3 separate regions of the Homo sapiens genome follow, and all the other regions are linked to region 2. Evidence: fine-mapped expression QTL. A gene starts in region 2. Each other region holds a variant in brackets. All regions are shown on one strand. Distances are between the middles of the regions. Region 1 overlaps TJP3 (tight junction protein 3). Region 2 holds the start of TJP3 (tight junction protein 3). Region 3 overlaps TJP3 (tight junction protein 3).

Region 1 (8,174 bases), 32 kb after region 2:
TTTTTTGTTGTTGTTGTTTTTGAGATGGAGTTTTGGTCTTGTTGCCCAGGCTGGAGTGCAATGGTGTGATCTTGGCTCACCGCAACCTCTGCCTCCCAGGTTCAAGCAATTCTTCTGCCTCACCTCCTGAGTAGCTGGGATTACAGTTGTCCACCACCACGCCCGGCTAATTTTTATATTTTTAGTAGAGATGAGGGTTTCGCCATGTTGGCCAGGCTGGTCTCAAACTCCTGACCTCAGGTGATCCACCTGCCTCGGCTTCCCAAGTAGCTGAGATTACAGGCATGAGCCACTGCGCCTGGCTAACTTTTTTTTTTTTTTTTTTTGAGATAGAGTCTTGCTCTGTCACCCAGGCTGGAGTGCGGGGGTGTGATCTTGGCTCACTGCAACCTCCGCCTCCCGGGTTCAAGGGATCATCCTGACTCAGCCTCCCAAGTAGCTGGGATCACAGGTGGCCGCCACCATGCCCAGCTAATTTTTGTGTTTTTAGTAGAGACAGGGTTTCACCATGTTGGCCAGGCTGGTCTTGAACTCCTGGCCTCAAGTGATGCACCCGCCTCAGCCTCCCAAAGTGCTGAGATTATAAGCTTGAGACACTGTGCTCAAGATTGGGAACAACAATCTTGTTGTTCATGTCATATGACATTGTTCATGTGACATTCTTGTTATCAATGTCACAATCTCCTTGTTATCAATGTCAGGACTTTGGGTCACAGCCTCATTGCCTATGTCATGACCTTGTCTGGGTCGCAATCCTCTTGTTCCTGACATTGGCTGTGTTGACCGTGTCATGACCGTCTTGTATGTCCTAATCGTGTGGTCAGGTCACAGATCATTCTCTCATGATCTCCATGTCCACTTATAGTCATTTTCTGTGCCACCATCCCCTGTGTCTGTGTTGTGACCTTGCCTGTGTCCTGCCTTCATGACAGTGTCATAACTACCTCCAGGATCCACAGCCCCTCATCATCCCCCCATCTCTGTCCTTGCCTCATCTCATCCCCAGGCTGTCTCCCCTGTCCCTTGCGCGAGTTCACTCACCAAGTCTCACCCCCACTTTGCTCTCATGACCTTGCTTGTGTCTTGACCTTGCAGTGTGAGTTGTGATTCATGATGGAGTCACAGCTCCCCACTTTCCATGTCATAAGCCCACTGGCTGGGTGAAAACTTGATGCCAAATTGCCTGAGGGTCATGGTATTTTTTACTGTATTTCTACTCATTTTGCTTGTGGGATTCTAACCTTGACATCCACGTCATGACCCCGAGAGTAGGTGTCTGTGCCCACAAGCTGTGCAAGTATATTGCTGTCCCTGTTATGACCCTGAGAGCAGGTGGCTGTGTCTGTATATTGCTGTCCATGTCGTGACCCTGAGAGCAGGTGGCTGTATATTGCTGTCCATGTCATGACCCGGAGAGCAGGTGGCTGTATATTGCTGTCCATGTCATGACCCTGAGAGCAGGTGGCTGTGTCTGTATATTGCTGTCCATGTCATGACCCGGAGAGCAGATGGCTGTGTCCATATATTGTTGTCCCTGTCATGACCCTGGTGGTAGGCATCTGTGACCCACTGTGTGTCCATATATCGTTGTCCCTGTCACGACCCTGTGACTACTGTGACTACGTCTGAGTTCTTTTGAGCATTTCACACAGTTTCCATCGAGCTCCATGCCATGACCTCTGTTCCCATGTTTTGATATTGACAACCCACCATGATTTGGTTATCTGAGGACAAGTGCAGTGCCTGTGCCCGTTTCTGTGTCAAAACTCTTGTATCCTTACAATGCCACCAGCTGTCTGTGTCACACATCACACAGCCATAGGGTGATACCCCAGTCGGAAAGCCCTCGGGGAACTGCCGGGTCCCTTGGCAGCAGCTCTGGAAGCAGCTGGGGCTGAGTTTTGCCCAGAGGAAGGTCCAGGATCTCATGCACGCCCAAGAGGTACCAGAGCTTTTTCTATAGCTGCACTTGCTTTCTGGCAGGTGAATGACGTGCCATTCCAGAACCTGACACGGGAGGAGGCAGTGCAGTTCCTGCTGGGGCTGCCACCAGGCGAGGAGATGGAGCTGGTGACGCAGAGGAAGCAGGACAGTGAGTGCGCGTGGATATGGGTGTGCCTGTGTGTTGCGGGGGGAGGACCTGGCTGTGTGGCCTGGTGGTGAGTGCAGGGATGTGGTTGAATCTGCATCTCTGCACCCTCCATCCCTCTCCCTGGCCCCTACAGGGAGAGTGCCCCAAATCTCCAGCCAGGCCCACTCTCGGGTGGGGAGGGCTCAGATCAGGCAGCAGCCCAGGCAGCTCATGTGGCCTCCCGCTCTCCCCAGTTTTCTGGAAAATGGTGCAGTCCCGCGTGGGTGACTCCTTCTACATCCGCACTCACTTTGAGCTGGAGCCCAGTCCACCGTCTGGCCTGGGCTTCACCCGTGGCGACGTCTTCCACGTGCTGGACACGCTGCACCCCGGCCCCGGGCAGAGCCACGCACGAGGAGGCCACTGGCTGGCGGTGCGCATGGGTCGTGACCTGCGGGAGCAAGAGCGGGGCATCATTCCCAACCAGAGCAGGTGGGGACTGTGTGCTCCTGCAGTGGGGCACTTCTGCTTCAGCCTCAGTCTCCCCGTTAGAAATGGGCTCGATTGGGCTGGACGCGGTGGCTCAGGCCTGTAATCCTGGCACTTTGGGAGGCTGAAGTGGGCAGATCATGAGGTCAAGAGATCGAGACCATCCTGGGCAACATGGTGAAACCTCGTCTCTACTAAAAATACAAAAATTAGCTGGGCGTGGTGGCACATGCCTATAATCCCAGCTTCTTGGGAGGCTGAGGCAGGAGAATCGCTTGAACCTGGGAGGCAGAGGTTACAGTGAGCCGAGATCACGCCACTGCACTCCAGCCTGGCAACAGAGTGAGACTCTTGTCTCAATAAATAAATAAATAGGCATGATATCACTGCTTAGCAGTGTTGGTGGTTCAATCTGAGGAGGTCCACAAAAGGCTCTGGGCGGGCCCCATTTGGTGCTGGTATGAGCTTCCTGTTGTTGCTGTAACAGATGCCCAGAAACTTAGTGGCTTTAAACAACACACACATCCTCTTACAGTTCTGGAGAGCAAAAGTACTAAAGTCAAGGTATGGGCAGGCCTGGGCCCTCCCAGAGGCTCCAGGAGAAAACCAATTTTCCACCTTTCCCAGAGTCTAGAGGGGCCGCATCCCTCAGCTCGGGGCCCCTTCCTCCCCCTTCATAGCCACAGCACAGCCTCTTCTAGTCTCTCTCTGACTCTCACCCTCCCGCCTCTTCTTGTGAGGACCCTGTGAGGACATCGGGTCCCCTGGGTCACCCAGGATCATCATCCACCTCAATAGCATCAGTTTAATCCCATCTGCAGGCCAGGCACGGTGGCTCACGCCTGTAATCCCAGCACTTTGGGAGGCTGAGGCGGGCAGATCACGAGGTCAAGAGATTGAGACTATCCTGGCCAACATGGTGAAACCCCATCCCTACTAAAAATACAAAAATTAGCTGGGCGTGGTGGTGCATACCTGTAATCCCAGCTACTTGGGAGGCTGAGGCATGAGAATCGCTTGAACCTGGGAGGCGGAGGTTGCAGTGAGCAGAGATTGCACCGCTGCACTCCAACCTGGCGACGGAGCGAGACTCTATCTCAAAAAAGTAAATAAATAAATAATAAAGATTAGCTGGGCGTGGTGGCGGGCACCTGTAATCCCAGCTATTTGGGAAAGTGAGGCAGGAGAATCGCCTGAACCCAGGAGGCAGAGGTTGTAACGAGTCCAGCCTGAGTGACAGAGCAAGACTTTGTCTCAAAAAACCCAAAATAATAATAATA[G/C]TAATAATAATCCCATCTGCAGAGTCCCTTTTGCCATACAAAGTGGCCTGTCCACAGGCTCCGAGGGGTAGGACGAGGACGTCTTTGGGGCCACCATGCTGCTGACCCCAGTGCTCAGTACTGTCCCCTCTTCTCCCCAGGGCGGAGCAGCTGGCCAGCCTGGAAGCTGCCCAGAGGGCCGTGGGAGTCGGGCCCGGCTCCTCCGCGGGCTCCAATGCTCGGGCCGAGTTCTGGCGGCTGCGGGGTCTTCGTCGAGGAGCCAAGAAGACCACTCAGCGGAGCCGTGAGGACCTCTCAGCTCTGACCCGACAGGGCCGCTACCCGCCCTACGAACGAGTGGTGTTGCGAGAAGGTGGGGCCCGGAGCTGGAGGGGCCCTGGGGAGGCCTCACACACAGCTCCTGGTGCACCTGTTCACTAACATTCAGCCTCTAAAAGGCACAGTCTTGGCCCGGCGTGGTGGCTCACGCCTATAATCCCAACACTTTGGGAGGCCGAGGTAGGAGGATCGCTGAGGCCAGGAGTTCCAGATCAACCTGGGCGGTAAAGCAAGACTACATCTCTACCTCAAATTTATTTATTTATTTATTTTTGTTTTTATTTTTATTTTTAGACAGAGTCTTGCTCTGTCTTAGGCTGGAGTGCAATAGCGTGATCTGAGCTCACTGCAACCCCTGCCTCCCTGATTCAAGCGATTCTCTTGCCTCAGCCTCCCAAGTAACCGGGATTACAGGCGCCCATCACCCCGCCCCCAGCTAATTTTTGTATTTTTAGTAAAGACGGGGTTTCACCATGTTGGCCAGGCTGGTCTTGAACTCGTGACCTCACGATCCACCCGCTTCAGCCTCCCAAAATGCTGAGATTACAGGCGTGAGCCACCACGCCCGGCCTCTACATCAAATTTAAAAAGATAGCTGGGCATGGTGGTGCATACCTATAGTCCCCGCTGCTTGGGAAGCTGAGGCAGGAAGATTGCTTGAGCTTGGGAGGTCGAGGTTGCAGTGAGCTATGATCGCACCAGCCTGGCCCACATGGTGAAATCCCATCTCTACTAAAAGTACAAAAAATTAGCTGGGCATGGTGGCAGGCGCCTGTAATCCCAGCTACTTGGGAGGCTGAGGCAGGAGAATCACTTGAACCCGGGAGGCAGAGGTTGCAGTGAGCTATGATCGCACCACTGCACTCCACCCTGGGCCACAGATTGACACTGTCTTCAAAAGAAAAAAAAAAAAAAGCATGTTTCTAACCACTCTCCTTCTATCAAAAATACTTTTGGGCCTGGGTGCGGTGGCTCACGCCCGTAATCTCAATGGTTTGGGAGGCTGAGGCAGGTGGATCACCTGAGGTCAGGAGCTCTAGACCAGCCTGGCCCACATGGTGAAATCCCATCTCTACTAAAAGTACAAAAAATTAGCTGGGCATGGTGGCAGGTGCCTATAATCCCAGCTACTTGGGAGGCTGAGGCAGGAGAATCACTTGAACCCGGGAGGCAGAGGTTGCAGTGAGCGGAGATCACACCACTGCACTCCAGCCTGGGCAACAAGAGCAAAACTCCGTCTCAAAAAAAACAAAAAAACAAAAAAATTTTGGGTTATTTTAGGGGACAGAAGGACAGGAAGGGGGTTCATTCCTTAAAAATCTATTTGTGTCTCCAACAGAAATATGGTGCAAGGCATGTAGATAGCCTTACAAAAGGAAAAAGAAATAGCAATAATAATAATTTTAATAATTTATCTTCTTTGACCGGGCGTGGTGGCTCACGCTTGTAATCCCAGCACTTTGGGAGGCCAAGATGGGTGGGTCACTTGAGCCCAGGAGTCTGGGACCAGCCTGGACAGCAAAGTGAGACTCTGTCTCTACAAAATAAAAAATAAATTAGCCAGGTGTGGTGGTACGCCAGTAGTCCCAGCTACTTGGCAGGCTGAGGTGGGAGGATCCCTTGAGCCCAGGAGGTCGAGGCTGCGGAGAGCTATGATCATGCTGCTGCACTCTAGCCTGGGCAACAAAGCCAGACTCTGGGGGGAAAAATGCCTCATCCTGATTTCAGGAAGGGAAGAGATTAAGCTCTTATCAGAGGACAGGGGGTTAAAAACCCAGGTGCAGCGATTTTCCAAATAAAACCACAAAAGGGGTGGGAAGAGCAAATTGCCCGGGACAGGGGTGGGTGGATGGACCTTGAGAAAAGCCTTTGACACTGTCATCGCGCTGCTCCAACATCCAGATGAAAACGTCCTAGAAATACAAGGCCACGGCCAGGCGTGGTGGCTCACGCCTGTAATCCCAGCACTTTGGGAGGCCGAGGTGTAATCCCAGCACTTTGGGAGGTGGGTGGATCACCTGAGTTCGGGAGTTCGAGACCAGCCTGGCCAACGTGGTGAAACCCCGTCTCTACTGAAAATACAAAAATTAGCCGGGCGTGGTGGTGGGCGCCTCTAATCCCAGCTACTCAGGAAGCTGAGGCAGGAGAATCACTTGGACCTGGGAGATGGAGGTTGCAGTGAGCCAAGATTAAGCCACTGCACCGCCAGCCTCGGTGACACAGCAAGACTCTGTCTCAAAAAAATAAGTAAATAGGCCACGTGCGGTGGCTCACGCCTGTAATCCCAGCACTTTGGGAGGCCGAGGCGGGCGGATCACGAGGTCAGGAGTTCGAGATCAGCTTGACCAACATGGTGAAACCCAGTTTCTACTAAAAATACAAAAATTAGCCAGGCATGGTGGCGCACGCCTGTAATCCCAGCTACTCAGGAGGCTAAGGCAGGAGAACTGCATGAACCTGGAAGGTGAAGGTTGCAGTGAGCCAAGATTGCGCCACTGCACTCCAGCCTGGGCCACAGAGCTAGACTCCATCTCAAAAAAAAAAGTAAATAAAATAAAAGAAAGAAAGGGAGAAAGAGAAGGATTAAGTTGCAAAGACCCTGGGCTACCACTTTTCTCCCCTCAAGACGCTTCTGTGACTGTTTCTTCAGTGGTAAAATGGTGTATCTGGTAGGCCAGGTGTCAACATACTTTTCCTGCAAAGGATCACATAGTAACTATTTTAGGCTTTGTGGGCTAGTCTCTGGCAGAACTACTCAGCTCTGCTCAAAGGTAGCCATAGACAGGACATAAAGAAATGGTTGTGACTGTGTTTTGATAAAACTTTATTGACGAACACATGCAGTGGGCCAGATGTGGCCCTCAGGTTGTAGTCTGCTGACCTATGAGTTAGCTAGGTTCAACTGCTAAAAAGAGACCCTACAGCCAGGAAGAAAGGGAATGAAGGCAGGAGAGGGGCTTATTCCTGCCCTTGAAGGCGGAACCCAGAAATGTACACATCAATTCTGCTAGTGTTCCATTGGCCATTATTTGGTCATAAGGCTAACCTAGCTGCAAAGGACACTGGGAGATGTAGTATTTGGCTGGGTAGCTATGGTCCTGGTTAAATAGGCTGTTTACTATAAGGAAGTGGAGGGGTTTGTACAACACACTAGCAGTCTTTGATCGCAAATGGGACCCTGATTCTTTCACTGTGTCTCTACCCCTCAGCCAGTTTCAAGCGCCCGGTAGTGATCCTGGGACCCGTGGCCGACATTGCTATGCAGAAGTTGACTGCTGAGATGCCTGACCAGTTTGAAATCGCAGGTGAGAAGCCAGATCCTCTGGAAACCTCGTTGGTGAAATAGTTTCACAACTGTTTTTTTGTGGGGGGTCGGGGGAGAGTTAGAATAATGATGGCAAACATGAAGCAGATGGGCCACCAGTGCCCCCCCCAATACCCAAGCCAGACATCCTCAATCCATCTTGGCACCGTTTGTCTGGATAGAACCTCCAAATCCTTCTTAACACAGTTCACCAGGTAGCCATTGCCAATTGAGGCAAAGTGCCACCTGTTATTTGTTTAAGAGAAATTTATTGATCTTCTGAGACAGCAGTGAACACGACAGGCAAGGTCCCTTGGAGAAGACTCCAAATTAACAACTGTAGAAACAATGGCCGGGTGCGGTGGCTCATGCCTGTAATCCCAGCACTTTGGGAGTCCGAGGCGGGTGGATCACGAGGTCAAGAGATTGAGACCATCCTGGCTAACATGGTGAAACCCCGTCTCTACTAAAAATACAAAAATTAGCTAGGTGTGGTGGCGCGTACCTGTAGTCCCAGCTACTCGGGAGGCTGAGGCAGGAGAATTGCTTGAACCCGTGAGGCAGAGGTTGCAGTGAGCCGAGGTCATGCCACTGCACTCCAGCCTGACGACGGAATGAGACTCTGTCAAAAAAAAAAAAAACAAAAACAATTAAGATAGACTAGGAGGCCGGGCGCAGTGGTCAGGAGTTCGAGACCAGCCTGGCCAACATG
Region 2 (8,174 bases):
GACCTGGTCTCAAAACAAACAATGAAAAGTAAAAGAAATGCAGGTTCCTAGGCCCCCACCCAGACTTCACACACCAGAAACTGGGCAGAGTAGGGTGGTGGGAGGGCACAATCTGGGTGTTCATGACTCCTCCCTTCCAGGCAAACTGGGTGCCAGATAAAGTTTGGGGGAAGGGGCCAGCCACGGTGGCTCATACCTGTAATCCCAGCACTTTGAGAGGCCAAGGTGGGCGGATCACTTGAGGTCAGGAGTTCGAGACCAGCCTGGCCAACATGGAGAAACCCCATCTCTACTAAAAGTATAAAAATTAGCCAGGCGTGGTGGCATGCGCCTGTAGTCCCAGCTACTTGGGAGGCTGAGGCAGGAGAATCACCTGAACTCAGGAGGCAGAGGTTGCAGTGAGCCGAGATTGCACCACTGCACTCCAGCCTGGGCGACAGAGCGAGACTCTGTCTCAAACCAAAGAAAAGGAAAAGAAATGCAGTTTCCCAGGCTCCAACGCAGACTTCACACACCAGAAACTGGGCGGGGTGGTGGGGGTGGTAAAATCTGGGTGTTCATGACTTCCCCCTTCCAGGCAATTTGGATGCCAGATAAAGTGGAGGAAGTGCTGGAGGTTAGATCATTGATGAGGATAATGAAGAGGAAATATACTTAAAAAAAATTACTAAAACTGGCTGAACAGTCATGACTTACAGACGCAAAAGTCAACATCAAAACAAGCAGTTAAAAGCAGCCTCTTGGCCGGGCGCGGTGGGTCACGCCTGTAATCCCAGCACTTTGGGAGGCAGAGGTGGGTGGATCACCTGAGGTCAGGAGTTTGAGACCAGCCTGGCCAACATGATGAAACCCCACCTCTACTGAAAATACCAAAAAAGTAGCCAGGCGTAGTGGCACATGCCTGTAATTCCAGCTACTCGGGAGGCTGAGGCAGGAGAATCGCTTGAACCCGGGAGGCAGAGGTTGCAGTGAGCCGAGATGGCGCCACTGCACTCCAGCCCGGGAGACAGAGTGAGACTCCGTCTCAAAACACAAAAACAAACAAACAAACAAAAAACTTAAAAAAAAGAAAACTAGGGCAGGGATGGGGTGACAGGAGGGGAGAGGCAAGGGACAGAGAGGAGGGGCTGGGGTCCGGGAGAGCCACCAGCCTTCTGTGCCTTCCCCGCATCCCCCCACGCCCCTGGTTGGCTGTCCCCATTACGCAGGGTGGAAAACCGAGGCTGCCCGGCGGGGGCCGGTTGCGTGGTTTCTGGCGCCGCCTGGTGGCCATAGTGGCTACTACCGTCAGCAGGAGGTACTGCAGGCTGGAGGGACCCTAGTCCATTCATTCCAAAAACATGTATTGAGCACCTACTGTGTACCAGGCACTGTGCTAGGCCATAGGACACGGCAGGGATGAGCACGACAAAGTCCATGACCTCTGTGAGGTGGCATTTTAATATTTATTTATTTATTTTTCAGCCAGCGTCTTGCTCTGTCTCCCAAGCTGGAGTGCAGTGGCGCGATCTCGGCTCACTGCAACCTCTGCCTCTGGGGCTCAAGCGATTCTCCCGTCTCAGCCTCCTGAGTAGCTGGGATTACAGACGCATGCCACCTTGCCCGGCTAATTTTTGTATTTTTAGTAGAGATGGGGTTTCACCATGTTGGCCAGGCTGGTCTCGAACTCCTAACTCAAGCAATTCTCCCACCTCAACCTCCCAAAGTGCTGGGATTACAGGGGTGAGCCATTGAGCCCAGACTTAATTTTTTAAATTTTAATTTTAATGTACTGGTAAAGATGGGGGGGTGTCTCACTATGTTGCCCAGACTGGTCTCGAATTCCTGGCCTCAAGTGATCCTGCCACCTTGGCCTCCAAAGTACTGAGATTATAGGTGTGAGCCATCATGCCCAACCCTTCCTGGTTAATTTTATTTTATTGAGATAGGATCTTGCTCTGTCACCCAGGTTGGAGTGCAGTGGCACAGTCATAGCTCTCTGCAGCCTCAACCTCCCAGGGTCAATTGATCCTCCCACCTCAGCCTCCTGAGTTTCTGGGACTACAGGTGTGTACCACCACATCTGGCTAATTTTTAAAAAAGTTTTCTGGGCTGGGCGTGGTGGCTCACGCCTGTAATCTCAGCACTTTGAGAGGCCAAGGCAGGCGGATCACCTGAGGCCAGGAGTTCAAGACCAGCTTGGCCAATATGGTGAAACTCCGTCTCTACAAAAATACAAAAATTAGCTGGGCATGATGGCTGGTGCCTGTAATGCAATCCCAGCTACTCGGGAGGCTGAGGCAGGAGAATCACTTGAAACCGGGAGGCAAAGGTTGCAGTGGGCCGAGATCAAGCCATTGCACTCCAGCCTGGGCAACATAGCAAGACTCTGTCTCAAAAAAATAAAAAAAAAATAAAATAAAAACAAAAAACAAAACAAAACCAACAACAGCCAGCAGCAACAACAAAAAAACTTTTCTAGGCCAGGCTCGGTGGCTCACGCCTGTAATCCCAACACTTTGGGAGGCCGAGGCGGGCAGATCACTTGAGGTCAGGAGTTTGAGACCAGCCTGGCCAACATAGGAAAACCCCGTCTCTACTGAAAAAAAAAAAAAAAATTAGCTGGGCGTGGTGGTGCACGCCTGTAATCCCAGCTACTTGGGAGGCTGAGGCAGAAGAATCACTTGAACCCAGGAGGCGGAGGTTGCAGTGAGCCGAGATCGCGCCACTGCACTCCAGCCTGGGTGACAGAGGGAGACTCCATCTCAAAACAAACAACAAACAAAAGATATATAAAAATTTTTCTAGAGATGGGTTTCACCGTGTTACCCAGGCTGGTCTCAAATTCCCAGGCTCAAGTGATCCTCCCACCTCGGCCTCCCAAAGTGCTGGAATTACAGGTGTGAGCCACCACACCTGACCCTTTCTTGTTTTTTAGATGAGGACAGCAAGAAGCCCCTGTAATTTGCCCAAAGCCACACAGCGGGGAAGTGGCAGAAGCTTCTGTACGTAGGAACCCAGTCACTTCGTAGCAGAGAGGCAGACTGCGCACAGATCTGCGTGGGGAAGGGAGTGCGCCAAGCCACAGCCTGATGGGCCGGCGTGCCTGGCAGGAGGCTCAGCAAGCACAGAGACTGGGCAGCTCCAGATGCAAGAAGCAGGAGGGAGGGGGACTCCGGGAGTGCGGTCCATTCATGTCTGAATGTAGCCAACGAGGGTTTCCTAAGCACCTACCATGTGCGGACGCTTGATACCAGGGCCTCGGCGGTGAGGGCACAGGCAGGAGCAAGCTCACCTCTGGGCAAGCAGGGGTTAAGGCCAGTTGCTCCCACGTGAGGGCACCTTGCGACAGAGCCACACACCCAGTCCTCCTGCTGGCCCGCCCCTCACCCTGGTCCGTCTCCCTGTGTCTGTGGTCGTCAGTTCCACTGGCAGGGGACCTGCCTCCCTGTTGCCACCACAAGAGAGGAAAAGTTGGTCAAACAGGTGGGGAGGCCAGAGCTACAAGCCTCGGGTTCCCTCCCCACCACCCGTGCCAGGCAGGCACCCGGGCCCTGGCACCTGCTGCCTGCCCAGAGGCCACCCAGCCTCCTAGACAGGTAAGTCCCCCGCCCCACTGTGCTTTTCCACCCAGTGTGCATTGTCTGAGCTGGCCTTCCCCAGCTGAGGGTCCTTAGACTCCCCCCCAACCTCCCCCACCACGAGCTGTCTCCCCGGCTCCTCGGAAAGCAGGAAACTGACACTCCTGCGTGGGCATCTGACATAGTTTCGTAGGGATTATCTGACCGGCAGTTACTGCACCTGGCGGCCTGCCCAGGACGCTGAGCTGGAAACTTAAAAGGGTCATTGTTACCTAGGTGGCGCAGGGACCGGGGAGGCGGCAAAGGGGCACAGGTTGGTCTCTGATCCCCCTAACTGAGGAGGGGAGGGGATATCAGTCCAGACGGAGCCTGGGTTTACCTCCTGCAGCCCGAGGCTAGGAGGTGACAGGTGGGAAAGGCTGCGACCTCACTCATCTCTGAGCCTCCTGGAACTTCTTAAAAGGCTCCCAAGTTTTGAAACAACTGCGTCTCCCGCCCCCCAACCCCTCACCCTGTTCTCACCGCTGGAACCTCCAGGAGCTTTGCAGGGAGGGATTGGGGTGGCCTTTCTTTTGCTAATTTTTTTTTTGAGACGGAGTTTTGCTCTTGTTGCCCAGGCTGGAGTGCAGTGGTGCGATCTTGGCTCACTGCAACCTCTGCCTCCACCTCTGCCTCCCGAGTAGCTGGGATTACAAGCGCCCACCACTATGCCCAGCTAATTTTTGTATTTTTAGTAGAGATGGGGTTTCACCATGTTGGCCAGGCTGGTCTCGAACTCCTGACCTCAGGTGATCCAACCCCCTCGGCCTCCCAAAGTGCTGGGATTACAGGCGCAAGCCACTGCGCCCAGACTTCTTTTTCTAATCTTTACTCCTCCGAGCAAAATCTCTGTGGGATGGGGCAGAGGGGAAGGAGGAAGGAGCGCTCAGAGCCAGAGAGGGGAGGGGTCGGCAGCAAAAGTGTTTTTCTGGGTCATTTGCTCCCAAATGGGAAGACCAAGGGAGCTTCCTCGTGAGCCAAGTGTCCGATTGCATCTCAAGTCTCTCTCCAGAACCAAGAGGGTCCCCCGGGGCCGAGGAGGCATGGATGATCGCATAGTGGGGGACAGAGCGGCCCGGCATTTGGGGTCACCTTGTGGCTGTGTGGCTGCAGAGCTCCCAGGGAGCAGGCTTGCTTGAGATTCGGGAGTCCGTGGGGGTGGGCGACATGGATCCCACCTTGCCTGGGTTTTGAGAGCAAACCCGTGGACTCAGTTAGATCTGGCTTCCACACCTCCCTTCTCTCCGGGCCTCTGTTTCCTGCTCTGTAAAATGGGGATATTGAGGGCCGGGCGCGGTGGCTCACGCCTGTAATCCCAGCACTTTGGGAGGTCGAGGCGAGTGGATCACAAGGTCAGGAGTTCGAGACCAGCCTGGCCAACATGGTGGAACCCTGTCTCTACTAAAAATACAAAAAATGAGCCGAATATGGTGGCAAGCACTTGTAATCCCAGCTACTCCGGAGGCTGAGGCAGGAGAATTGCTTGAACCCAGGAGGTGGAGGTTGCAGTGAGCCGAGATTGTGCCACTGCACTCCAGCCTGGACAACAGAGTGAGACTCTGTCTCAAAAAAAAAAAAAAAAAAAGGGGTGGGGGGATATGGAGTCACCAAGGCACAGGGCTGTTGAGTGCCGGATGTAATAAAGCGGGTAACAGATTCTCGGTCATTCTGGGGTCAAGACGAGCTATCCCGGTCCGAATCGGAGTCTGGTCTCATCAGCTTCCTGGTTTGTAGAGGATGAACCCTGGCTCAGAGAAGGACAGCCGCTTACCCCGGGCCGCACAGCCAAGTAGAAATGTCAGGCGGCCAAGAGTCAAGACGCAGAGGACAGGGAGCTGGTGGCGGGGGTGGTGCTCTGGAGGCTGGCCCTGCCCCCAGCTGATGCCTCAGGCTCAGCATCTCGAGAAAGTCCTGCCCCCTGGCTTGGTGCTTCCTCGTGGCCCTGAGTCCCGGGGAAAGTCCAGGGCAGGGAGTATGGGTACTTGTTCTTCCTCTTTAGGGCTGGCCAGGGGCCAGGGGAGCTGTGTTTGCTCAGGGTGGAACCTGACACCCTTTGGAATGGATTGAGGTTAGCGGAAGCCTAGGCTGGGGGGAGGGGTCGCCCAGGGAGCGAACGGGCATTTATTGTGCACTTACTGTATGCGCGAGTGTGGGGTCACCAGGCCTTGGAGATTCAGCAGTGAGCAAGGCAGGCCAAGCTTCCTGCTCTCGTGGGGCGCATATTTTGGTGGGGAAAGACAGACATGAAACAAGAGCGCAGTAATGGAGCCAATGGCTGCACAGAGGGTAACATGCGTGAGAGGCGCTTTGTAACTTTATTTTACTTTTTATATTTTTTTGAAACGGAGTCTCGCTCTGTCGCCCAGGCTGGAGTGCGGTGGCGCGATCTCGGCTCACTGCAAGCTCCGCCTCCCGGGTTCACGCCATACTCCTGCCTCAGCCTCCCGAGTAGCTGGGACTACAGGCGCCCGCCACCACACCCGGCTAATTTTTTGTATTTTTAGTACAGACGGGGTTTCACCGTGGTAGCCAAGATGGTCTCTCCTGACCTTGTGATCCGCCCACCTCAGCCTCCCAAAGTGCTGGGATTACAGGCGTGAGCCACCATGCCCGGCCTTATTTTATTTTTTTTTGAGATGGAGTCTCGCTCTGTTGCCCAGGCTGGAGTGCAGTGGAACGATCTCCGCTCGCTGCAACCTCCACCTCCTGGGTTCAAAGCGATTCTCCTGTCTCAGCCTCCCAAGTAGCTGGGATTACAGGCGCCCACCACCACGCCCAGCTAATTTTTGTATTTTTAGTAGAGACAGGGTTTCACCGTATTGGTCAGGCTGGTCTCGAACTCCTGATCTCAGGTGATTCGCTCGCCTCGGCCTCCCAAAGTGCTGGGATTACAGGCGTGAGCCACCGCGTCCGGCCAAAATGAAGGGAGAGCTTTAAATGCTGGCCTGAAGACATTTGGCTTTATGATATTAAAGGATATTTTTTCCCAAAATAGTAAAATCATTACTCTCATACAAATACAAAATGAGGCCGGATGCGGTGGCTCACGCCTGTAATCCCAGCACTTTGGGAGGCCGAGACGGGTGGATCACGAGGTCAGGAGTTCAAGACCAGCCTGGCTAACATGGTGAAACCCTGTCTCTACTAAAAGTACAAAAAAAAAAAAAAAGGTGCTTTATGTGTCTGCTTAATTCATTAATTAATATGGGAACCGGTAAGACTTTATAGCCTATACAGAGGGGAATTAATTTGTTTCCTTTCTTTCTTTTTTTTAAAAATTGAAAATAGAAATGGGGTTTTGCTGTGTTGGCCGGCCTGGTCTCGAGCTTCTGGGCTCAAGTGATCTGCCAGCCTCAGCCACTCAAAGTGCTGGGATTTCAAGCGAGAGCCACCGACCCGGCCTCAGCATTCTTGATTGCCTGTGTGTGTGTGTTCTTTCAGTTCTCCTCTGGACCAGACACGGTGGCTCACGCCTGTAATCCCAGCATTTTGGGAGGCCAAGGCAGGTGGGTCACTTGAGCCCAGGAGTTTGAGACCAGCCTGGCAAACGTGGTGAAACTCTGTCTCTACTAAAAATACAAAAATTAGCCAGGTGTGTTGGCGTGTGCCTATAATTCCAGCTACTTGGGAGGCTGAGGCAGGAGAATTGCTTGAACCTGGGAGGCAGAGGTTGCAGTGAGCCGGGATCGCACCACTGCACTCCAGCCCCAGAGACAGAGCAAGACTCCATCTCAAAAATGTCATTCCGTGCCCAGAATGACAGCACCTTAGCGTAGATGGTTTCCATGGGGCAGGGGGCCCCCTCTAGCCCTGGGACACTGTAATTCACCTTTGGCTTTCCCACTGGGGGCCCGAGTGGAGTTAGAAGCATGGAGAGGCAGCCCAGGGGATCCTTAGTGGCAGATGCTTAAACCTTTGAGCCTTCCCTGAAATACTGCTCAGGGTCAAAACCGGGATCCCCGTTTTACAGATGAGGAAGCTGAGGCAGGGGCTGGAATTCACATGGGCTCTGCTTTTCTCTCTCTGCTGTGGAACTTCCTTCTAGAGCTCAGCCGTCCTCCCTTTTGGGGGAAATGGCATCTTTGGCATGGCTTGGTGGCTCCCGCCTGGAATCCCAACATTTTGGGAGGCCGAGGTGGGAGGATCGCATGAGCCCAGCAGTTCAAGACAGGTCCGGGCAACATAGCGAGATACCGTCTCTACAAAATATACAAAAATCTGCTGGGCAGGGTGGCGTGCACCTGTGGCCCCAGCTACACAGGAGGCTGGGGTGGGAGGATCGCTTGAGCCCAGGAAAGTGGAGGCTGCAGTGAGCTATGATTGCACCACTGCACTCCAGCCTAGGTGACAGAGCAAGACTCTGTCTCAAAAAAAAAAAAAAGAAAAGAAAAGAAAGTCCCCTGTTGAACACCCTGAGCTGCATTCCATACTCCAAGCTTCTAGCAGGTTCCACACTCCTCCTACTTCAAAGTGCCCCCCATGAGTCCTACTTCAAAGTGCCCCCCATGAGGTCCTCCAGCCTCCCCAGGACGCCAAACCCTGAGACGTTCTTCAGCCCTCCAGTGCCTTAGGGCT
Region 3 (8,151 bases), 41 kb after region 2:
CGGCCTGGCCCAGGACAAGCATGCGCTCCTGGATGTGACCCCCTCCGCCATCGAGCGCCTCAACTATGTGCAGTACTACCCCATTGTGGTCTTCTTCATCCCCGAGAGCCGGCCGGCCCTCAAGGCACTGCGCCAGTGGCTGGCGCCTGCCTCCCGCCGCAGCACCCGTCGCCTCTACGCACAAGCCCAGAAGCTGCGAAAACACAGCAGCCACCTCTTCACAGGTTGGGGGGTGGGTGTCCCAGGGTAGGCGGGTGGGCCCCAGCCTGAGTCTCCTGCACACACTGACGTCCCCTCCCTGCAGCCACCATCCCTCTGAATGGCACGAGTGACACCTGGTACCAGGAGCTCAAGGCCATCATTCGAGAGCAGCAGACGCGGCCCATCTGGACGGCGGAAGATCAGGTACTGCCGCGGTGTGGGTGGGTCGGGCAGGGAGGCCCCACAGACGCTGTGCAGGCCCAGCTGGGGTTTGGGGCCTCTGTCGGGAGTTAGGGCTTGGTCAGGGATCAGGACTGTGGCCAGAGTCAAGATGGGACCTGAGACAAGGGTGTTGGACTGGAACTTGGGTGAGATGAGATTGGAGGAGCTGTTTTTTGTTGTTTGATTTGAGATGGAGTCTCATGTCACCCAGGCTGGAGTACAGTGGTGTGATCTCAGCTTGCTGCAACCTCCGCCTCCCGGGTTCAAGTGATTCTCCTGCCTCAGCCTCCCGAGTAGCTGGGACTACAGGCGAGCGCTACCAGGCCCAGCTAATTTTTGTATTTTTAGCAGAGACGAGGTTTCACCATGTTGGCCAGGCTGGGCTCAAACTCCTGACCTCAGGCGATCCACCTGCCTCAGCTTCCCAAAGTGCTGGGATTACAGGCCTGAGCCACCGCGCCCAGCCTGGAGGAGCTGTTTTGAGAATGGAGTCAGTGGGGCACGGGAGCTCACGCCCATGGTCCCAGCTACTCAGGAGGCTGAGGCAGGAGAATCACTTGAACCCGGGAGGCAGAGGTTGCAGTGAGCAGAGATTGCGCCACAGCACTCCAGCCTGGCAACAGAGACTCCTTCTCATAAAAAAGAGAGAGAGAATGGAGTCTTCTCTTGGGGCTGGAGTCAAGGTTTGGGGCTCAGCTTGGATTTGGGGGCTGAGCCTCTCAGGTGAAGGGTCAATGGATACAACCCATCCTGGAGTCAACAGAGAAGCCTCCACTGAGGCTCCAGGCTCCAGGCTCCTCGCCTTGATTTGGGACCAGAGTTTGAAGGTGGGGGGATGTCGTGGGTGGCAGCTGGGGTCCTGGCCAGGGCCAGCCGCAGCATCCACACCCACCCCACAGCTGGATGGCTCCTTGGAGGACAACCTAGACCTCCCTCACCACGGCCTGGCCGACAGCTCCGCTGACCTCAGCTGCGACAGCCGCGTTAACAGCGACTACGAGACGGACGGCGAGGGCGGCGCGTACACGGATGGCGAGGGCTACACAGACGGCGAGGGGGGGCCCTACACGGATGTGGATGATGAGCCCCCGGCTCCAGCCCTGGCCCGGTCCTCGGAGCCCGTGCAGGCAGATGAGTCCCAGAGCCCGAGGGATCGTGGGAGAATCTCGGCTCATCAGGGGGCCCAGGTGCGTCGGACATGGGGGGCAGGCCTGGGAAGGGTCTCCGGAGGGGATGCCAGCACAGAGCAGACACACACTGGGAGCCTGTTTTCTACCAGGACGTCAACAAACACGGCTTCCCTGGTCAGACTGGTTTCTGGGACTCAGACCTGGGGTAGCTGAGACCCACGTGGCACTGAGTAACTTGCAGCATTTTTTTTTTTTTTTTTTTTTTGAGACGCAGTCTTGCTCTGTCGCCTAGGCTGGAGTGCAATGGCGCAATCTTGGCTCACTGCAACCTCCACCTCCCAGGTTCAAGCGATTCTCCTGCCTCAGCCTCCTGAGTAGTTGGGATTACAGGCACCTGCCACCATGCCCGGCTAATTTTTGTATTTTTAGTAGAGACGGGGTTTCACCATTGGTCAGGCTGGTCTTGAACTCCTGACCTTGTAATCCACCCGCCTTGGCCTCCCAAAGTGCTGGGATTACAGGCATGAGCCACTGCACCCAGGCTTTTTTTTTTTTTTTTTTGAGATGGAGTTTCGCTTTTGTTGCCCAGGCTGGAGTGCGATGGCGTGATCTCGGCTCACCACAACCTCCGCCTCCCAGGTTCAAACGATTCTCCTGTCTCAGCCTCCTGAGTAGCTAGGATTACAGGCGTGCACCACCATGCCTGGCTGATTTTGTATTTTTAGTACAGACAGGGTTTCTCCATGTTGGTCAGGCTGGTCTGGAACTCCAGCCTCGGCCTCCCAAAGTGCTGGGATTACAGGTGTGAGCCACTGCACCCGGCCTTTTTTTTTTTTTTTTTTTTTTTTTTTTGAGTTAGAGTCTCGCTCTGTCACCCAGGCTGGAGTGCAGTGGCACGATCTGGGCTCACTGCAACCTCGGCCTCCTGTGTTCAAGCGTTTCTCCTCCCTCAGACTCCCAGGTAGCTGGGATTACAGGTGAGCACCACCATGCCCAGCTAATTTTTTTTTTTTTTTAAGGTATTCTTAGTAGAGACAGGGTTTCACCACGCTGGCCAGGCTGGTCTCCGATTCCTGACCTCAGGTGATCCACGTCGGCCTCTCAGAGTGTTGGGATTAGAGGCGTGAGCCACCGCACCTGGCCTCCAGCCAACATTTTAACCTCTCTGTGCACCTGTTTCCTCATCTAGGACACAGGGTGGATGGTATCAGACTTGGTGGCACAGGGCGGTGGTGAGCACTCAATGTGCTCAGCCCAAGTTTTGGCACATAGTAGTTGCGTGTCTTTTTGAACTTGACCTATCTAATTTATATATTTTATTTTTTAAATTTTAGAGATAGGGTCTTGCCCTGCTGCCCAGGCTGGAGTGCAGTAGTACAATCATAGTTCGTTGCGGCCTCCAACTCCTGAGCTAAAGGGAGCCTCTCATCTCAGCCTCCGGAGTAGCTGGGACCACAGGCGCGCACCACCACCCACACCCAGCTAATTTTTTTTCATTTTTTGCAGAGATGTGGTCTTGCT[A/G]TGTTGCCCAGGCTGGTCTCTAACTCCTGGGCTCAAGTGATCCTCCTGCCTTGGCATCTCAAAGTGCTGGGAGTACAGGCGTGAACCACAGCGCCCAGCTGTAGTTGGGTGTTTAACAGTAACAAATGTGTATGTAGCTCTTAGTGTATATGCCTCAGCATCTTCTTCCACACCCTCTCTAGGTCAATGTAAAAATCTATGAATCAATGACATCTCTGATTAGAGTGATTTTCCTGGGGTTGTGCAGTACCCAACCTGCTCAACTGTCCATGGCAGGCTGCATACGGAGCAGCCACTGTACTAAGTCCTTTACGTACATGAACTCATGGCTGTGGCCCTGTGAGGACTTGCACAGATGAGAAACCCAATTCCCCTTTTGCTGACAGGCTAGGAGGTCTCAGCTAAGGCCTTCCCCTATCCCAGCCTCAGTTTTCTCATTTAGATTTGGGGATGACCTGCAGACTTGTCACGGGGTTAGCAAGTGGGCAGCATGGCCCGGGCCAAGGTGGGGGATGGGATGGAGGTGGTTATTGATCTCGACTCACCATGCTCTGGGGGGAGTTTTGAAGCTCCTCTCTCCCTCTCCTCCAAGGTGGACAGCCGCCACCCCCAGGGACAGTGGCGACAGGACAGCATGCGGTAAGAACCCCATATTCCAGATTGGGGCCCTCAACCCTTCCCTTGGGACTCAGACTCTGCGGACTCAGATCTAGATCCAAGCTATGCCTTCATGGTGCCCCTAGCCTAGTGGGGAAGACAGAGCCTGCCAGAGCCTCTCTAAGCCCCATATAATCAGGGCCAAGGGAGTAGGAATCCACTTCCTGGGAGGCCTAGGAAGGCTTCTTGAAGGGCAGGATATTGCAGCTGGGGCTTTGAGGGATGCATAGGAGTTTGTTAACAAGGCCCTACCCATGAATGCCCAGATGTGCTTATCTCTGCCCACACCCACTGTGCCTAGCACAGCCAGCCTCAGTTTATGGTGAGAAAGCTCACACCCTTCCCACCCACAGCATCTATTCTATTTCCTGATCCCCAGAACCTATGAACGGGAAGCCCTGAAGAAAAAGTTTATGCGAGTACATGATGCGGAGTCCTCCGATGAAGACGGCTATGACTGGGGTCCGGCCACTGACCTGTGACCTCTCGAAGGCTGCCAGCTGGTCCGTCCTCCTTCTCCCTCCCTGGGGCTGGGACTCAGTTTCCCATACAGAACCCACAACCTTACCTCCCTCCGCCTGGTCTTTAATAAACAGAGTATTTTCACAGCACCGGCTTCTAGTGGCTTCCAGGAAGGACAAGGTCCTCGGTCCCGTAGACCCTGATCCGAGACTTTGCCAAATGCATAAGCTTTTACTGTTTTTATATTAGGAAATCATACAGGACCAAGAACCGCTGGGGTCCTGGCCAGCCAGGGCAGGCCCAGGATGGGGCTCCGGGGCCATGGAGGCGAAGGCACAGTGGCAGGCAAGGGATGAGGTGGTCACAGGTACACGGGCTGCTCCTGGCCTGTAAGGAGGCGATATGTGGCAGCTGGCATCGTCTTGATATGCACCTGGGGAGTGGAGGCGGAACGGGGCTCAGGGCAGGCCTGGGCTCGTGGGGGACGTGGGGGCGCCCCTGGCCACCACCCACCACCCGCACACCTCGCCATAGGCCTCGGTGAGCAGCTCGATGATGCGGGCGTGTGGCGTGGCCACCACACTCTGCCCATTGATCTCAATGATGCGGTGGCCGACGCGGATGCCCCCACGCTCGGCGATGCCACCACGGAGGAGGCTGCAGATCTGGGGGAGAAAAGAGGGGGACGGGAAAGAGGTGGGGGCTGCTCAGGGGCCGTGCTCAGGGCCGCCCTACCCCCCCACCCCGGGGCCAGGGGCCGGGGCCTCACGATGCCGTCCTCCACGCAGAAGCCCAGCTGCTCGCGGGCGTGGGGCCGGTGGATGATGGCGGTGGTGACGGGAGGGCAGTGGACGATGCTGAGTGTCACCGACGTCTGCGACTTCGTCTCCTGTGGGGCGGGGGCCGTTGGCCTCACTCAGCTGCCGGACAGCCTGGCAGGTTGTAGCCCCCTCTGGGCCTCAGTTTACCCTCTCATAAACCAGAGACCTGGAGTCCAGGGGCTCAATTCTGGAAGACCCCCTCAGATGTGATAGAGAACAGACTCGGGCCCGGTGGGCATGGGGTCGAAGCTGTCTGACCCGAGCCATATCGCTTCCTTATGGCCAAAAGCCAAGCCGACAGCCGGGCTCTCCAGGCAGGCTGCAAACATCTGTAAGAGGCTGCACGGACTGTGGCCTCATTCCTCTGACGGGGGCAGGTCCCTCCCTATCTCTGGGCCTCAGTTTCCCCATCTGAGCAACAAAGGTTGAGACTCAAAAACATGGCCAGGTGCAGTGGCTCACACCTGTAATCCCAGCACTGTGGGAGGCCGAGGCAGGTGGATCACTTGAGGCCAGGAGCTCAAGACCAGCCTGGCCAACCAACATAGTGAGACTCCATCTCTACAAAAAATAAAACAATAAACTGGGCGTGGTGGTGCACACCTGTGGTCCCAGCTACTCGGGAGGCTGAGGAAGGAGATTTGCTTGAGCCCAGAAGGTCAAGGCTGCAATGAGCCAGGTGCACCGCTGCACTCCAGCCTGGGCAAGAGTGAGACCTTGTCTCAAACAAACAAACCCCCCCAGAAATTAGCTGTTTCTTGTTAGAGAGAGAGAGTGGCCCAGCCCTGGAGCTGGGCCACCCGCATTTCCATCCTGGCTCTGGTACTAGGGAGGTGCCCTGGACAAGTGGCCTCCCTTCTCCAGGCCTCAGTTTCCCCAAGGGCACACCAGTGGGCAGGACTTAAAAGTTCGACTTTGTCCCTCCTGGCTGGGCTGGAGAGACCTGGCCAGGGAGGAGACCTCTCTGGGACTCAGCTCCCCTTCCTGGGAGTGTGGGGGCCCTGCCACACCAGGAAACTCACGCGGACAGCGGCCTGGCACGCAGCCAGGGGCAGCCCCACCAGGCTGGTCCCGTTGATGGCGGTCAGGCGGTCCCCGATGCTGAGGGCCCCCGAGCGCTCAGCAGGCCCCCCGTGCAGCAGGTTGGCGATGACGGCTGTGGGCAGCAGGGAGCCCCAGCCCGACTCCACCAGGGCCACGCCCAGGCCCTCCCCTCGCCGCTTCTCGAGGTGCACCTGGGACACACAGGGGGCGCGGAGGCTGCTCAGCAGGGCCCGGTGCAGGTGCACGGGTGTGGGGGGCACCAGGTGGGGGCTGCCCAGCACCTCACTCACCTCCCGGCAGTTGTCACTGTTGGAGAAGTGGTCCAGGTCCCCATTATGGAGGTGGCAGGCGCCTGGGCTCGGGTGCACGCCCACCTGGCTGGGGTCAATACCGCTTTCCCGTAGGAACTGGCTGTAGGCGGCGGCGAAGGCCTGGCCAATGGCCTGGGCGATGAGCTGGGCCTGCGGGGAGGAGTGGCGCGTCCCTGGGGTGTCCCACCCACCTCCTCCAGGTCCCCAAAGTCCCCAGGGTCCTCAGAGCTGAGCCCTCCTGTCCCCACCTGGGGTGAGAGTCCCAGGACACAGCCTTCTGCCCTGGGGCTTTGGGGGAGGTGGAGAGACAGCCGCATCTTGGGGAATCTACGGGGAGAAGGAAGGGGAGGGGCAGCCCTGGGCTGGGGGGACGATGAGGGAGGCAGCTCCCTGCGCATGGGCTGTGGGAAAAGCTATCAAAGACCCAGCCAGGGGGCCTGGGGCCTCATGGGTGGCAGGGACAGCCCAGGAGCGGGCAAGGTTTCGGGGAGTCGGCCGAGAGTCTTGGAGTCTTATAGGAGGCTGGACGCGGTGGCTCACGCCTGTAATTGCAGCACTTTGGGAGGCTGAGGTGGGTGGATCGCTTGAGCCCAGGAGTTTGAGACCGTGTTCACCTGGGCAACAGAGCGAGACCGTGTCTCTATAAAAAATACAAAAATTAGCCAGGCATGGTGATACCCCGGTGGTCCCAGCTACTAGAGAGGCTGAAGTGGGAGGATCGCTTGAGCCTGGAAGGTTGAGGCTGCAGTGAACTATGATTGCGCCACTGCACTCCAGCCTGGGTGACAGAAGGAGACCTTGTCCCAAAAAAAGAATTTAAAAATAAGCTTATGGGAGGGAGGTTAAATGCACGGCCCACTGAGGGAGGCGACAGTTGCAGTGAGGAGGGCCTCAGGAGGGTGGCCCCGCGCCCTGGCTGCTCACGTCCTCCGCGTAGAATACGTGGCAGAGCATCTTGTAGAGGCGGCGGCCGTGGTCCTGGGGTGCCGGCCTCCGTGCCAGCCGCCGCCGCGCCATCAGCACCAGCACGCAGCCGATGTCGGCTGTGTAGGAGATGGTATGCAGGGCGTGGTCCATCATGGCCTCCTGGGGCGGGAGAGGCAGCCTGGGTGGGTTGGGGGGCCGTGCCAGGCTCGATCACCCCACCCGCATCCCTGGGGCGGGTCCCTGCCCCGTACCTGGGAGTCCGCTGTCAAGACCTTGATCCTCTTGGTGGAGACGAACAGGTCCACCTCCGTCATGGGCTGGGTCTCCCCATCGGGGGCCTGTGGGTGGCGGCGTGGGAGGTGGAGGCCCCCACAGACCCAGCCTGCAGCCCACCCGCCTGCCCGCCCGGCCCCGGCCGCCCCCTCACCTTGACGCGGTCCATGGCCTCCCGGGCCTGGGCCATGCGCGTGCTGGTGGGCGGGTTCCGTTCCGACACCAGCTGGGTGGACCCCAGGTACCTGGCCCCAAATATGACACCGTCCAGGAGGTCTTCATGGTCACAGGGACCAGGCACTGAGGGCGACAGCGAAGAGGGTCGGCCCCCAGGGGCCCACTCCCACAGGCTCTGCCCCAGGGCTACGCTCTCCGAGATGGCCGGGAGACACAGTGTTCTAGCTGGTGGCTTAGCACTCTCCAGCCAGGAAGCACAGCCCACTGTTCTAGAACCATCCAAGCAGCCTGGCCCTCACAGGTCTAGAACCTTCTGTCCATCCCTCAAGGACTCGCAGGTGGGAAACCAGTGAGTCCAGGCCATGGCTGGATTCAAAGCCAGATCTAGCACCCACAGATACCTTC

The links. PIP is the estimated chance that this variant, and not a neighbour inherited with it, causes the effect. A credible set is the group of variants that fine-mapping cannot tell apart.
Region 1: its variant is the best candidate, but not a certain one, in a credible set for the expression of TJP3 in blood mononuclear cells (TOPMed, PIP 0.58).
Region 3: its variant is the best candidate, but not a certain one, in a credible set for the expression of TJP3 in caudate (GTEx, PIP 0.53).

Annotation. Positions count from the first base shown.
Region 1 is chr19:3,736,572-3,744,745 of GRCh38, forward strand. It overlaps TJP3 (tight junction protein 3), which reads left to right. Exons shown (of 21, transcript NM_001267560.2): 12 at 1,984-2,092; 13 at 2,326-2,563; 14 at 3,981-4,192; 15 at 7,368-7,463. Among named protein-coding and RNA genes, the nearest start is that of APBA3, 21 kb to the right of the region's middle. RefSeq lists a silencer at 256-456. The variant G/C (reference allele first, on the strand shown) is at 3,841.
Region 2 is chr19:3,704,984-3,713,157 of GRCh38, forward strand. TJP3 (tight junction protein 3) reads left to right here and starts at 3,401. Exons shown (of 21, transcript NM_001267560.2): 1 at 3,401-3,578. RefSeq lists enhancers at 2,846-3,509, 3,510-4,171, 5,007-5,552, 7,566-8,067, 8,068-8,174.
Region 3 is chr19:3,746,472-3,754,622 of GRCh38, forward strand. TJP3 (tight junction protein 3) reads left to right here. Exons shown (of 21, transcript NM_001267560.2): 17 at 14-224; 18 at 305-405; 19 at 1,323-1,610; 20 at 3,667-3,713; 21 at 4,111-4,342. The coding sequence ends at 4,213. APBA3 (amyloid beta precursor protein binding family A member 3) reads right to left here. Exons shown (of 11, transcript NM_004886.4): 4 at 7,724-7,869; 5 at 7,548-7,634; 6 at 7,294-7,455; 7 at 6,349-6,519; 8 at 6,037-6,249; 9 at 4,963-5,082; 10 at 4,718-4,858; 11 at 4,301-4,626. The coding sequence ends at 4,555. Among named protein-coding and RNA genes, the nearest start is that of APBA3, 11 kb to the right of the region's middle. The variant A/G (reference allele first, on the strand shown) is at 3,075.